2 separate regions of the Homo sapiens genome follow, and region 1 is linked to region 2. The links come from fine-mapping of genetic effects on gene expression. Tissue or cell type: subcutaneous fat. Region 2 holds a variant in brackets; the other region holds the start of a gene. All regions are shown on one strand. Distances are from middle to middle.

Region 1 (8,109 bases), 68 kb after region 2:
TTCCTCCAACTACGAAGTACTTGTTTCTGGGCATCCAAATTTTCATAAACCTTGAAGTGGGCACTGACGCTGTAAATGTAATCCTAAAATAATTTATCTTCCTTCAAAAATCTCTGCCATCGTGACTTTACATACCACACACAAAAAAGAATACCTGGAAATAATTCAAATGTATAACAACAAGTGTATGTCATACATAAGAATACTATACAGAGTTTAAAAAGAAAACTAGATCTACATTGTTAACATGAACGAATATTCAAAATGAATGTGTGAAAAATGCAAGCTGCAGAATACATGTAAGAGTATGACATCCACTGTGTAAAGTTTAAAAACACACAACAGACTACATATTATTTATGGATACATACATATGCAGAAAAGGTATAAAAGCATGTACACAAAGAATACACATCAACTTCAGAATAGTGGTTACCTATGTAGGGGATGGAGAATGTAAACAACGGGATGGATACAAACAAGCTTTAACTCTATCCATAATGTTCAATATTACAAAAATATTTGAAACAAATATGGCGTAACATTAACATTGTTAAATCTGGTGGTGTTACAGTAGACACCGATTATTCTCTGTACTTTTCAATTTTAATATATTTCATAATAAAAACAAAAACATTCACAGAATAAAAAAGATTGAATCACTGCTACCATTTTCAGATTAATCAGGCGTGCTAAAATACAATACACATTTTCTTTCCCAAATAAGACAATATTAACAGAAGATGTTACATACTTGGTAATGTACATTTTTATAAAGTATCCATTGATTACTATATTAAAAATACACAACAATTAAAGAGCAGGATTTAATGCTTCTACTTCAAAACCTCTACCTTTACTTGAGTCAAAGGATTTAATTTCACACCACAAACAGGCTTTCCTTGCTTTAAGAGTATCCCTTTGAATTTTGTTCTATGTCATTTCCTTTAAACGTGACTCAGAATAAAAGGTTTCATGTACAAGGTATAGAAGAGACTTGGCTAACTACAGTTAAATAATACTAATAAATACATCTTAGAATAAACCGACAGTGGCTCAATCCAAAAATGATAATTATCACCAGTACAAAAACTTTTTTTCAGTCTGAAACTTTTAACCTGCAAGAGAAATACACATGATCTTTGTTTACCAAACATGTTTTTTTCTTGTCAGGAAAGCTTTCCCACCTTTGTCAGATTAATACTTCCTTGATCACAGATGAAGTCTTTCAAATTAAAGATAAACAACTACTTGCCTGTTGTTTCTGATATGCAGTATTTGGATTTATCTTTGATTCCAAGAGTAGTGATCCTGAAAGATAAAAAATAATACATCATAAGTCTCAAATGATAAAACCCTGAATAAAAATTAGAATACACATTAAAGCCGGGCGCAGTGGCTCACGTCTGTAATCCTAGCACTTTGGGAGGCGGGCAGATCACGAGGTCAAGAGATCCAGACCATTCCAGCCAACATGGTGAAACCGTCTCTACTAAAAATACAAAAATTAGCTGGGCGTGGTGGCGCATGCCTGTAGTCCCAGGTACACGGGAGGGTGGGGCAGGAGAATCGCTTGAGAGAGAGGGAGAGGAGGCAGAGGTTGCAGTAGCCCAGATCGCGCCATTGAACTCCAGCCTGGCAACAGAGCAAGACTCTGTCTCCAAAAAAAAAAAAAAAAAAAAAAAAATACACATTTAAACCCCGCCCCCCGCCCCCGCAAACTTTTCAAGTCTTTTTACCGAGTTGGACATCTTAATAAAATGTATTCGAATTCACATTTTCTCTCCAAATCTAGGCTTCACATTTAATCTAAAATATTTCACCCTATTCCCATACACCCTTAAAGGAAAAATTAATCTAAAACCAACAATCAAACCAAGGAATGAGGAGACTAGATGACTATTAAAATTTTATTGAAATAAAAATTTTAAGGTCTAAATGACCACTTCAAGCCATTCGTTTTAACAAAAGTTGTTTTATTGCATTCCCAGTTTAACAAATAATGCAAATTACAAAACAAAAACATCATGACAGGGATTAAATACTTAGTATAGAAATTACAGTGCTGCATTTATCCTTTCCTCATTAAGAACAAAAGAACACCTTCTGTAGAAGTGATGACTATTTAAAATAAAAGGGAACAAGCAAGAATACAAAATATGTCAAGACTAAACCTAAGATTATTTTTCTAACTGCCTATATCAGTTGTTCAAATCAAGTCCAGATTATACTATAAAAGGCATTTTAATTACGGCTCTACATTTTGTAATTTAAAATACTTCACATGACTACAATAAACCAAAGAACACAGCAGTTTACAACCTGCTTTGGTGTCCCAACTTGCTTAGATTGTAAGGCATTCACTTTCTCATAGCGCCTTCTACAAAGGCAGCCCGAAGAAATGCAGACTACAGATGTATGTGCTTGTGTGTCCATGTATCGTGGCAACAGTCAGCAATACAGCCAGGAAAACGTGCCTTTCGGTTTTCCCCAGCACCTGTCGACTGTGGCACCTGGGGCCCGTTGGTACAATTTTTTTTTTTTAAAAACACTCGGAAAGAAAAGTTTCCCTAAACCGTTTGTACTAGACGTATAATGGATAAGTAAATAAAGGGGGAGGAAGGTGTCAGCTCCTAGGGCGACATCAGTACCTAGTCTCTCACTACTTCCTCCCTTCTCTCTCACACTCTCCCCTCTTCAAAAGAGGAGGGACTGGAAAGGAAGGAGTCCAATCCTTAAGAGAGATGGGAGAAGGACAGAGAGTCTCGGTCTCCGAGGATAAGTCCAGTCAAAAGTACAGTACTTTGTTTTTGCCGTACACAAGAGCCAGTTCAGAACCAACGCGCTGTCCCGAAGGAGTAGCAACGGTAACGGGCCCAGGGCCCTAAACCCAAGCTGTGCCCCAACCAGAGGCACTATCCCCTATTCTACAGTTCCGATAACCTTACCGTCGGACTCTGCCCGAACCAGCAGCGACATCCCCTTGAGCTCCTCCACGTAAGTGGAGGAGACGTGCCCGGTGCCTCGGTCGTCCCATTGCCGGTCTTCGTTCAGGGTATAGACCTTCACTCGCCGCCGCGTATCCGACATGGTGGCTGCTGTCTCCACCGCTCTAGCCGCCGCCTCCTCGCTTACCTCGTCCGCGCTCCTCACTCTTAGGAGACGGTAAAGGCAGTAGTGGCGGTGGCGGCGGCGGCGGCTTCGGAGAGGCCCGAATTCACCATGGCTCCAAAGGTTCAGCCGCGAGAAGGGGTGACAAGAGCCACTGAGGCCTCTCCGCCCGGAGGCCCCGTTACCTCTCACTTCACCCGCGCATACACCCACTCTCCCGTCTCTTTGCCCCCCAGGGCTCGCTTGCTCTCCCGCCGCCGCGGTAACTACTACAGATCCGCCATCTTGTAACCCGACTCTCTCTGCCTTTCTCTTCCTCCTCCAGCAGGCTCGCACGGGCTGTCCTAGCAGGGGCTACGGCGGCCGACAAGTCCCATGAGCAGCACCTCCGCTTCTGCACGCGCTTCCCAGGCCGGAATGCTCGGCGCTCTCGCGAGGAGGGGTACCGACTGGGGCGGGAGTACTTCGGCGAGACTTCCTCCTCTTTCGGCCCGACTTCCTCCTCTTTCGGCCCCGCCTCTTGGCGCGGGGTCGCAATTGGGCGGGAGGTTCTCGCGATCTCCCCGTCCACGCCTGCGCCGCGAGAGGCCGCTAGGTGGAAGGGGACTTCGGTTCCGCACGTCGTCATGTTGTTGGATGGCACCAGTATGTGACGTTCCTAGGAACTTAGCTCTGAGGAAAAAACAAAGCAAACCGGGGAAGTACGTAGCCTTGAACCGGAGTAACCAGGGACAGAAAGGAAGGAAAAGGGTTTCATACCTTCACGGAACGACGCTCACTTCGTCCGCCTGAGGAGGAAAAATAAGTTTAAACCTTTCTGTGAAAAAGAACGTGGAGCCCTTTCTGCCGAATGGAAACCCGCTAAACCCCGTTATGGAGTCTGCTACAATTAAGCATCTAACCAGGAATTGTCTATGGACACAACTCTCCAGGCAATTCATGCAGAAAGTGTGTTGACGATTTCCTGTTTCTTGCAGAGCGCTTCACCGTTAAGGCTCTTAGTAGCTGGCGATTGTAAAGCACATTTTCCGCTTCATGAAAATACAGTGCTCTTCTTGTGTTTGTAACCTTGGAAAGTAAGTCTGCTATGATAAGTTTAGGGAAGTGGCGGGGAGCTACTTTCCTAACATATCTGTGATTGTTTTGATACTTCTCAGTTTCTCGCGGGCATTTCCTGCGTTCTCTATAGGGCTCTCTTGCACTGAATAAGGAAAGGAGGAATTCTCTCTGCATTGAGGCTATTATCGCACATTGTGCGGTGGATATAGTCACGCGCTGGGTCGTAGTAGCGTGTCGTTTATTTCAGTCCAGCTCACTCTTGGTAGAATCCCTTTATTCGTTTTGTTGTTTTTGATAGTCTCTCTCTGCTTCCCAGGCTAGAGTGCAATGGCGCTATCTCGACTCACTGTAGCCTCCGCCTTGAGGGCTCAAGCGATCCTCTCACCTCAGCCTCCCGAGTAGCTGGGACCGTAGACGCCTGCTCCCCATCCCCGCTATATTCGTTCTTTAATACAGTCTCTCAGCTTGTTCAGCTGCCACTTCTGTGCAGCTCATTAGCCTGATCGGTGAAAACTAGGCGAGACGCGCACACTGACCCTGCAGTGCATCTTGGGAGTTGTAGTCATAACTAATCAATGGTCTTGTTAAAACGTGCTTATGTTTTGACCAGATCGCTTAAGTGTGGACACCCTTCAGCAGTACACTACAACGTGGGTCAGTGTACAGAACACATGCTGATAGAAATAATTTCAAAATCTGGATTCATAGTTTTTTTTTTTAATCTAGAGACCTCAGAAAATGTACTTGAAGAAAATCATCATAATATAATACATAACAATAGAGCCAATTAATTGATGTGATGAAAGTGGACAAAATGTATTTTGACCTCAGAGAAAATAACATTTCTGTCTTGGAAGAGTCAGAGAATGCTTCACACAATTTTTGAGCCTGATGTTAGACTCTCCAGCCTTCTGTCCAAGCCTCACCCTTTGGTTACTCCCCAGGAAGACTGAACTTGGGAAGAGGATTGTGCAGACCCTGGAGTCAGGCTTGGCGTTTGGGATAGGGAATACTAGAGTGCCCACAGCATGGTCTGGAAAAGGGAAAGTGGGCTGCAGGTGGCTACAGTCCCATGATTCCATGGATTTCAGACCCCTCCAAAGCACAGGGCTCAGTGCTTATCCAAGTCTGAGGGCCCCCCATAACCACATCTTCCCCAGCAGATGTTCTTTGCTTCAGGCAGTCATCAAAGTTCCACTTCAAAGAGTTGCTAACCAAATAAGCCCACAATCTTCCTTTTTTGTTGTTTTGAATAAGTAATGCCTTTACACATATGAAATTAAAAAGAGAGGCCGGGCATGGTGGCTCACGCCTGTAATCCCAGCACTTTGGGAGGGCGAGGTGGGCAGATTGCCCGAGGTCAGGAGATCCAGACCAGCCAGGCCAACGTGGTGAAACCCTGTCTCTGCTAAAAATACAAAAATCAGCTGGGCGTGGTGGTGGGGGCCTGTAATCCCAGCTACTTGGGAGGCCGAGGTAGGAGAATCGCTTCAACCTGGGAGGCAGAGGTTGCAGTGAGCCAAGATTGCACCACTGCACTCCAGCCTGGGGGACAGTGTGACAGACTGTCTCAAAAAAAAAAAAAAAAAAAAAGGCAAAGATATATAGTGAAAACTAAGTCTTCTTTTAGTCTTTGTCTCCTGCCACTCATAGAATTTTCCTCTTGGAATCACCTCTATTCCATTTTCCTGTGTATGTTGCCAGAGCAGGGCTGGCTTCATGGTGGTGACCTGTACAGATAGGCACTTGGTTTAATGTTTTGCTGTCACTAACTTGAAATTCAGGAAAGTTTCTGGACAAGGGCCCTGCGGTTTTATTTTGCACTGGGCCCACAAAGTATGTATCTAGTCCTATTCCAGAGATATTCTATGCATATACAGGTAATTATATGTAGATATGTATGTAGTGGTCCAGTAGTGGTCCAGGGCCTGTTAGGAACTGGGCGGCACAGCAGAAGGTGAGTGGCAGGGGAGCCAGCATTTCGGCCTGAGCTCTGCCCCCTGTCAGATGAGCAGGGGCATTACATTCTGGTAGGAGTGAGAACCCTATTGTAAACTGCACATGCAAGGGATCTAACCTGTGCACTCCTTATGAGAATCCAACTCCCCCTTTCCATGGAAAAATTGTCTTCCACAAAACCAGTCCCTGGTGTCAAAAAGGTTGGGGACCTCTGTAGTAGGCTACCATCTAGGTTTGTTTAGGTACACTCTATGATGTTCACACAACAAAAAATCACCTGATGATGCATTTTTCAGAAAGCATCCCCATTGTTAAGGGACACATGACTGTAATGGAATACTATTCTTTTCCTTCCTTTTTATTTTTTGTGGAGACAGGGTCTCTACATGTTGGTGCCCAGGCTGGTCTCACACTCCTGAGCTTAAGGGATCTGCCTGCTTTGACCTCCCAAAGTGCTGGGATTACAAGTGTGAGCCACCATATCTGAACCCCTGTCCCCCACTTTTTTTTTCTTTCTTTTTTTCCATACACAGTCCAGGCTGGAGTGCAGAGGTGTCATCTCGGCTCACTGCAACCTCCGTCTCCCGGATTCTAACGATTCTCCTGCCTCATCCTCCTGAGTAGCTGGGATTATAGGTGTCCGCCACCACGCCCAGCTAATTTTTGTATTTTTAGTAGAGATGGGGTTTCACCATGTTGGTGAGGCTGGTCTCAAACTCTTGACCTCATGTGATCCACCTGCCTCAGCCTCCCAAAATACTGGGATTACAGGGGTGAGCCACCGTGCCCAGGACAGCCTTTTTTGGGTCAGTGTGTATATAGAGCTAACTCATTCTACTTAATGGCTACATAGTATCCCACTGTGATAGCCGCAAAAGGCAGACAAATCCTAGGCAGACAGGGGCAGGTCCCTGGTGAAACCCTTCAAGCTGAGGACAGTTTAAAGGCTAGCCACAAGACCAGGATAAATCCACAGACCAGATTGAGAACCTCTCTTCCCATTTGGCGTGCTTTCTTCTGATTGATCCCCACCCTTCACCTATTTTACACATATCCTTTCCTAATTGTTTTTTTACACTGTTGTACCTACCTTTGAGTGGTGCTGTTGTTTTAGCCTTTTTTGCATACTCACAAACCAATCAGCATGCACGCCTTCATTCTGAGCCCATAAAAGCTGTGGACTCAGCCGCACTGAGAGAGAGACCACCTGACTTTGAGTGAGGGACCACCCTTGCATCCTCTCTCTCCTGAGAGCTGTTTCATAGTTCAAATAAAACTCTTCTCCACCCTCCTCACCCTTTGATTGTCAGCGTAACCTCATTCTTGGACGCTGAAGAAAAATTCGGGACCCACCAAACGCAGATACAAAGAAGGCTGTACACACTGTGGCCCTTTGCCCTCTGCTGGTGGAGGGCAACCGTCCCACACAACGCGATGGGAAGCAGCAGTGGGGCAGAGCCAGTCCTGAAGCCACGGGCCTGAGTGGGGCAATGGGACTGATAGAGCTGTTAACATGCCACTGTCCGTTGGCCTGCAGACGGCAGAACTAAAAGAGTGCTTAGCATACTGTAACACCTCTGGGGCTTCAGGGTCATGAGCACCCCTGTTTGGGTGCCACCACATTTCCCTCAATGTGACACACCTGGTCCAGCCACAAGCCCCGCACAGAGCCCACTCCTGCCCTGTACTCGTTCACTCACACACCCCCTCCTGCCAGGGGCTGAGGCCATGGTGGCTGCAGGATTCGTGCCTGAGCACAAGCCAGACACATCCTGGTGGGCCGAGTAGTTGGGGTGTTGCTGGCCGGAGGTCTCCAGCTGTCAAAGTGGCCAAGAAAAATCCTGCATCAACTGTACAAATGTACCCTAATTTATTTAACTCATTTATTGTATATTTGTGTCATTTCCAATGGTTCGTAATTTCAAACATATGATTGTGCAAAAGTTGTTTTATGTGTGCCAATATCTTTGTAGGTTAATT
Region 2 (8,109 bases):
GTAGATTTTACATTTATCATTTACACTTATACGAGGCAGGAGCAAATAGGACTTGGAAAATAGATGTGCGGGATGTAAAAAATACTCACTCTTTCTAGACAAACTCTTACTAAAACACAGGCAAAGGGAATAATCGATTGAGCCTGTTGAAGGAGATGCCACCACTGGGTGTTGGTGTTTAAGAGAAGTGACCCTAAGATTTCTGTAGTCTGTTTGTTTAAAGATAAACCACAATAATAGGAGACCTTTCTTTCAGAAACTTGCAGGCCGGGTGTGGTGGCTCATGCCTGTAATCCCAGCACTTTGGGAGGCCGACGCAGGAGGATCACTTGAGGTCAGGAGACCAGCCTGGCCAACATGGTGAAACTCCGTCTCAACTAAAAATACAAAAATTAGCCAGGTGTAGTGGCGGGTAACTGTAATCCCAGCTACTTGGAAGGCTGCAGCAGGAGAATCGCTTGAACCCGGGAGGCGGAGGTTGCATTGAACCCGAGCTCACGCCACTGCATTCCAGCCTGGGTGACAGAGCAAGACTCCATATAAAAAAAATAAAATAAAAAAGGCCAGGCATGGTGGCTCATGCCTGTAATCCCAACATTTTGGGAGGCTGAGGGGGTGCAGATCACTTGAGGTCAGGAGTTCAAGACCAGCCCGACCAACATGGTGAAACCCCATCTCTACTAAAATACAAAAATTAGCTGGGCGTGGTGGTGCATGCCTGTAATGCCAGCTACTCGGGTGGCTGAGGCTGGAGACTCGCTTCAACCTGGGAGGTGGAAGTTGCAGTGAGCGAAATCACACCACTGCACTCCAGCCTGGGCAACAACAGAGCAAGACTCCATCTCCAAAAAACAAACAAACAAACAAAAAACTTCCAGTCTTGTAATATCCCACGTCCACCCTTTTCTAAGTACAGGATACTCCTGAGATTTAACTTATAATCACATTTTATCTCCTTAAGTCTACCATTATAAACTTTTAAAAAAGGATACCAAAATTAGTGTAACAGGATTTACTCATTTCAGTTACACAATTCCAAACTTTCCCCTGCAGGAAAACCAGTATTTACATTTGTTATATTTTCATCACTAGATGGCTAAGAGGAAATGCTAGTGATTAAAACACAGAAATCTGTTTCATGTAACTTTTTATTAAAAATAGTTTTTATATTGGACACATGTTTACAGATACCATTTTAAGAAGACCTAAGGCATACAAATGTGGGCTTTTGGCTTGCTTCACTGAATGAAGATAAAGATATAAAAACCCAGATCTGCCTGAGGGTAGTCGTTTAAAGACAGCCGCTAACATGGAATTCTCACAATTGTTCTTTTGAGGGATATTTTAAGCCTTGTTCTCTTATCGTCGTAGGTAAGCACTTGTACCATGAAAACCGTAACCTGTACTTCAAGAAAACATTCACATTTCTGCTACAAGAAAAGGTTCTGATGATTTAAATGTTTAAGACTTATGGCAGCTCTTCAGAAAGAAAAAGGAAGTCTTCATAAGATACAGAGATAGGGAGGCTGAGGCGGGTGGATTGTGAGGTCAGGAGTTTAAGACCAGCCTGGCCAAGATGGTGAAACCCCGTCTCTACTGAAAATACAAAAATTAGCCTGGCATGGTGACGGGCACCTGTAATCCCAGCTACTCAGGCTGAGGCAGAGAATTGCTTGAACCCAGGTGGCGGATGTTGCAATAAGCCGAAATCGTGCAACTACACTCCAGCCTGGGCAACAGAGCGAGACTCAAACAAACAAACAAAAAGTAACTAGGAAAGTGTTTTACATGTGGGCTTATTTTAAGAAGAAATTTACTAAAAGCTGAGAGATGGGTCTCGATAAAATTTGATGATTCAAAGAAAGTGGATGGGAACTTTACTGATCTTAGTTTAAAATATCCTGAGTCACCTGCCTTATGAGGTGGAAGGTCTTTCTTTCTTACTATATGTACACCTTTAATTGAAAAGGTGAGAAAAGCTCCATACTGTGATGCTATGATTTCCCCAAGGCTTACCTTCTATAAGTAGTCACTGATAAAGTGCCATTGACCCGCATTTGTTTAGAATTATTTCATTAAAATTGGGGTATGATCTAGCAGTTTATAATAAATATTTATGGATAATTTTATTGGCTTTTAAAAGATACTGTAAAATTGACATATCTCAAAATGGAGTTAATTTATATTTACAACAAACCAAACACAAACATCAATTATGGAATTACAGGGTCACATTTTAATTCCTGAATTTTACAGTTTAGCATTAATATCACCACATGTATACAAATGGTGTAAAACAAGTACAGTGGTATTTTTTAATACAAAATAAACATCTGTTTTATGGAAAAAACTATACTTCATATCTACACAGACAGCTCATCTTTTCCAAACAATAGCCAAAATTAAAATTAACTACAAAATCTCCAAAACAGGGGAAACTGCTTTAGATTAAACGATTCCAGGAAAAATGGACCCGTAACACATTACAAGGGTGATCTAAAGATTGTGGCTGGAATTACTGTTAAAGTTTTTTTTTCCCAATGCATTAAATTGTATTTTGGGGAGATTTTTCTCACTTCGGCATGATCTCAGATCATAGATGAGCAAACTAACATTAAAATATTTACAGTTAACTTGTTGCTCTAAAAATAAAACTTAACTGTTTGCCTCAATTTATTTTTAAAATTCACTTACGTATATGGAATGTGCTTTTACTCTTCTTAAAAAAGCAGCTTTCATATCACACCCTTGTTTACAGAAAAGCTACATGTGCTGCATGCTGACTTTGACACTTAAGTAGCTTCTTGGATCAAAATGGCTTCTAGATACTAAATGCCACTTAATTCAGCACTATTCTTGGTTGGTCTGTATAAGTAACACTTTAAAACTTGCAGCTCTGGAAAGACAGAACTTTACTAACAAAGTAGAAAGTGATTTCAAAGTATCTTCCACAAAAGATTGTACTGGTAGGCGGTTGACAACATTCTGTTCGATCTACTTTCAAATTTCTAGAGAAAATCATTTTGGAATACTACTGTACTGATTCTTGGCCTTCGTTGTCTCTAAAAGTGCTGATTTTAACATTATCTTAAAACTGTCCAGTTTGAATTGAGCTTGTTTTCATCAATATACATATTGAAAATTCCTGGTGTAGAAAACTCAACATGTGCTGAATACGGGGTGTACTTCCCTTCAACTACCTAAAAGGCTGAACTTTTGTTAAATCTTAAAGAAATGGTCCCAACAGCTTAACTTCATTTTTTTAATGATAGTTGAATGTGTTTTCCATAAAAATTTCTTTTAAAAAGAGGCAACTGATTAAAACAACAACATGGCCAGCACCATTATACAAGTAATGTTATTGAGTTTACAACTGAAGTTCTGTAAAATTGTTTCTAGATCGACACCCCGAGGAGCAACCCTGCATTATTATATCAACCTTTTCCCCTCCCCTAAACCGTCCCCAAACCTGTGACTTTTCCTTGCTGAGAAGCT[G/A]TCTCCCAGGTTCTGGTTACTAATGTTTGTTTTGACAGCCTAAAAGGCAAACCCCTTAATTACTAGCAAGCAATCAAGTTCCTGGGAAGCCTGATTTTTATTAGAACTAAACTCTCTTAGCTGATATACTGTCTTTTGCTACTCCTTGTATATTTTATAAGTTCAATTGAGAAAGCTTTCTGATTCAGATTTTCAGCTCACTGAACAGTTGCAGCATTGTAAGACCACATGTTGAGGGTCCCCTAATAAATATTTTATGAGCCAAGACGAGGTCTTTTCCTGGGGGACGATTCTTCTTCTTCATCTTCCTCTTCATCATCTGGATAATCCACTAAGCCAACCAAACTTCCCTATTGAAGAATTTAAAAATTTTTTCTTTAAACATATATAACAAAAAAGAGCTTTTAGTACAAATACAATCACTTGTAAAAATATCAGAAATCGTTTTTCTAAATCATATCAGAAATTAACATTTGAATTTGATAAAGGAACTGCTTGAAATTATGAACGTTTGAGTAGTAATTGGTAGCACTTGCAGTAACCCTTAACTTTTCTATCTGGTTCTTGGATTATTAATGATACTTCAAAACTCAATTCTGCAAAATTTTACTGTGGGAAAATGTCTACTTTTCCAAACAGTAGGGATAACAATTAATAACATTTGGAAGCTGGAAAGGACATTGGAGATGAACTGGTTCATTTCTCTAATTTCATTACCACAAGAAAGCCCCTTGTAGTCTTTGTTCATCTTGTGTATATTTCATCACTAAGTACACATTATTTTCATTGTGCTTTTGAAGTACAGCTTAAATGGCTGGAGATAAACACATGAAATGATTCCTATAAAATAATAAGTAAAACATTTAGGGCTAGCTCGCTGACCAAAAGAACAATAAGGATGAGGTAATTCGTGGTCTTGGCCTTTGATGAGTAACAGACCTCTGTGAAAATCCTAGAAAAACTCTGGGTACTCTCCAGAAAATTACACATCCACAGGGTTTCATTCATTTTGAGCCAATCCCATGAAAACTTATGTCCTATAGGTTAAGAGGGCTACTGTAAACACTGTATTTAGTTCAAACCCTTCAGACCTCTAGGAGATAAAACAAATACAACTGAAGTAACTCATACTTCATACCTGAAGTACTGAGGTATCGGGTTTTACCAGAATGTAACCAAATCAGTATAATATTAACCAACCAAAAAAAGGCCTCTGGGCAGCTAGAAACAGTTATCAGAAAGACTTATATACCTGTCTGAGAATCTGTTTCTCAACTTAATCACACACACATCTTAAGTCTGGATATGCAAGAAGCAATATGGCTAAATTGTTAAAAATAGGCTAACTGTAGGTCTGATGTCAAATTCTAATGACACCACGTTTTATGTAAAAAAAAACAAAAACAAAAACAAAACTTTGGGGCTGGGCTTATGCCTGTAATCCCAGCACTTTGGGAGATCGAGGCGGATGGGTCACCTGAGAGATAATGAGTTCAAAACCAGCCTGGCCAACATAGCAAAACCCTATCTCTACCAAAAATACAAAAATTAGCCTGGCGTGATGGCAGGCACCTGTAGTCCCAGCTACTCGGGAGGCTGAGGGACGAGCATCTCTTGAACCCAGGAGGTGGAGATTGCACCACTGCACTCTAGCCTGGGCAACAGAGCAAGACTCCATCTCAAAACAAAAAGAAAAACAAAAAAAAACACAAAACCTTGGGCAAGTGGTTTAATACCTCTGCCTCAGTTTGTCTGTAAAATTGGTATAGTAGTATTTAGGCCTCAGTGAACTATTTTGAAATTTAAATTGATGGCCAGGCGCAGTGGCTCATGCCTGTAATCCTAGCATTTTGGGAGGCCAAGGTAGGTGGATCACCTGAGGTCAGGAGTTGGAGTCCAGCCTGACCAACATGGTGAAACCCCATCTCTACTAAAAATAAAAAAATTAGCCAGGAGTGGTGGCGCATGCCTGTAATCCCAGCTGCTTCAGAGGCTGAGGCAGGAGAATTGCTTGAACCCGGGAGGCAGAGGCTGCAGTGAGCCAAGATTGCACCACTGCACTCCAGCCTGGGCAACAAGAGCAAGACTCCATCTCAAAAATAAATAAATAAATAAATAAATAGATAACCAAACATCTAAAGCACTTCAGCACAGTGCTTCGTATGTAGTTAGTGTTCAATAAGTGCTATTAGCTGCTATTACTACTATCATTTTTCTATTATTTTGTTTCTAAGCCAAACAAATTGGAAGAGAGGAAAAACAAGAAATAATTCTGGTATAAAAAGGCACCAATCTGATAATCAAAAAGATGACAGCAAAGTTACAAAGTTTTAATTATGCTTAGTATTACATATCATAACGTACAAACATTTGTATTCCAAATGGTTAACACTTAATTGTTTCTGCCCAAGATTAATAAATTGTCTGAAAAACTCACTTATACAATTTGAGTTTTACTTATATTATCTCTGCAAACTAACATACATTTAAAACATGTTTACAATAAAAATAATAAAAATGCAAAATATGAAATGTTGGAAGTAAAAAGGCCTGTAATCTAGAGATGCACTTTGTGAAGCTGATTCCATACTTTTAATATGTATCTAGAAATGTACTGTTTTAAAATAGCAGATTGAAATTATATTTACTCTTTTACAATCATGTTCATATAAAAAAAAGCTTTCGATGTCAGTACATAAAGTTCCATTTCATTGTTTTAAACCCTTGCATTCCATGGTATGAATATATATATATTTTTTAAGAGTCTTGCTCTGTCGCCTGAGCTAGAGTACAGTTGTGTGATCTCAGTTCACTGCAACCTCTGTCTCCAGGGTGCAAGCGATTCCTGTGCCTCAGCCACCCAAGTAGCTTGGGCTACATGCATGCACCACCATGCCTGGCTAACTTTTGTATTTTTAGTAGAGATGGGGTTTCACCATGTTGGCCAGGCTGGCCTTGAACTCCTGGCCTCAAGTGATCTGCCCACCTCAGACTCCCAAAGCCGAGCCACCATGCTCGGCTTCATCATATACTTTAATTCCTGAATTTCTGGTTGGACATTTGGGTTGTTTTTGCAGGGTATTTAGGTAAGAAATTTAAAAAGTGAATACCAGCAAAGAAAACAGGAGAAGAGAGAACAGCAGTTTAGAGTTGCCAAGGCATTTTTGGAAAAGAGAAATCAGAGGCAAGGCAAGTCATACAACAGGAAGAAGCCAAGAACTAAGTATTTGCAGAGGGATACAGAAACGAGAAACTGATTTGTCTTAAGAAAACCCCAGAAAGAAGCTAGGCAGTAAAGGCACCAAAATATTGGGGAAAGCAGGGAAAACAGTTTAATTATAGTAAAACAGACAACTGGGTCATTGATTCTACACCTCTGACAGCCAGGAGATTTCTGTTCCTCCACCATCACCAACTACAGAGAATTCTACATAGAAAATGACTCTATAAAGAATAAATTCTATAGAGAATGTAATGAACTTTACAGAGCAAAGGACCATATACTTCATGACTTTAGGCAAAGTAAAGGGCATGGGTAAGGCCAGGCTGAAAATGAAAGAATAAATTTAAATTTTGTATACTGAGCAGACACGCCTACCCCACAATAAGCTTTGCTATGTAGGCACTCAGAACACTAACAACCATTCTTATACTTACAAGGTGTAAGAGACTAGCTTTGTCTGTAAAAATTAGATGGCTTCACAGGAGTATGGGGGGAACTACAAACAACTAACACCTCCCGAAAAAAGCAGGGCACTACTCTCTAAGTCCATACCATAAAGTCAAGTTTTTAAAGTGTATAATTTTCACACACCATAAACTCACCATTTCAGAGCATATAATTCAGTGGTTTTAGTATATTCACAAGTTACGTAATCACCACCAATTCCAGAACATTTCCACCATTTCACCCACCAAAAAAAGTCCCCATAAACAGTCCTCATTCCCCCACCACCCCCCACACCACCCAGCTCTTGGCAACCACTAACCTACTTTGTTTCTGCGGATTTGCTTATTCTGGACAGTTCATATAAATGGAATCATACAATATGTGGTCTTTTGTGACTGGTTTACTTCAATTACCACAATGTTTTCAAAGTTAATCTATGCTTAGCATATCAGGACTTCATTCTTTTTTATGGCCAAATAATATCCACTGTATGAATATGCTACATTTTGTGTATCCATTCATCAGCTGAGAGACATTTGGGTTATTCTTACTTTTTGGCTATTATGAAAAATACTGCTATTAACATTCATATACAAGTTTTACAGTGGACACATGTTTTCAATTTTCTTACAATATATACCTAGGAAATGAGGTAGCTGGGTCATATGGTAACTCTGGGTCATATGGTACTCTGACTTTTTGGGGAACCGCCAGACTGTACTCCAAAGCTGCTACACCATTTTATTTTTATATATTTATTTTTTGAGACATTGTCTTAGAGACTCGAAAGTGCAGTGATGTGATCTCGGCTTATTGCAACCTCTGCCCGCTGGGCTCAAGTGATACTCCCACCTCAGCCTCCCGAATAGCTGGGACCACAGGCATGTGCCACCATGTCCAGCTAATTTTTGTAGACGGGGTTTTGCCATTTTGCCCAGGCTGGT

Evidence for each region. PIP is the estimated chance that this variant, and not a neighbour inherited with it, causes the effect.
Region 1: it holds the start of PPP4R3B, and the variant in region 2 is fine-mapped to the expression of PPP4R3B in subcutaneous fat (FUSION, PIP 0.95).

The regions. Positions count from the first base shown.
Region 1 is chr2:55,614,196-55,622,304 of GRCh38, forward strand. It overlaps PPP4R3B (protein phosphatase 4 regulatory subunit 3B), which reads right to left and starts at 3,427. Exons shown (of 17, transcript NM_001122964.3): 1 at 2,949-3,427; 2 at 1,256-1,311. The coding sequence starts at 3,090. PPP4R3B-DT (PPP4R3B divergent transcript) reads left to right here and starts at 3,735. Exons shown (of 3, transcript NR_186624.1): 1 at 3,735-4,187. RefSeq lists enhancers at 2,383-3,309, 3,310-4,234, 3,328-3,727, 3,748-3,797 and a silencer at 6,243-6,292.
Region 2 is chr2:55,546,162-55,554,270 of GRCh38, forward strand. It overlaps PPP4R3B (protein phosphatase 4 regulatory subunit 3B), which reads right to left. Exons shown (of 17, transcript NM_001122964.3): 17 at 1,131-3,845. The coding sequence ends at 3,750. Among named protein-coding and RNA genes, the nearest start is that of CFAP36, 30 kb to the left of the region's middle. The variant G/A (reference allele first, on the strand shown) is at 3,496.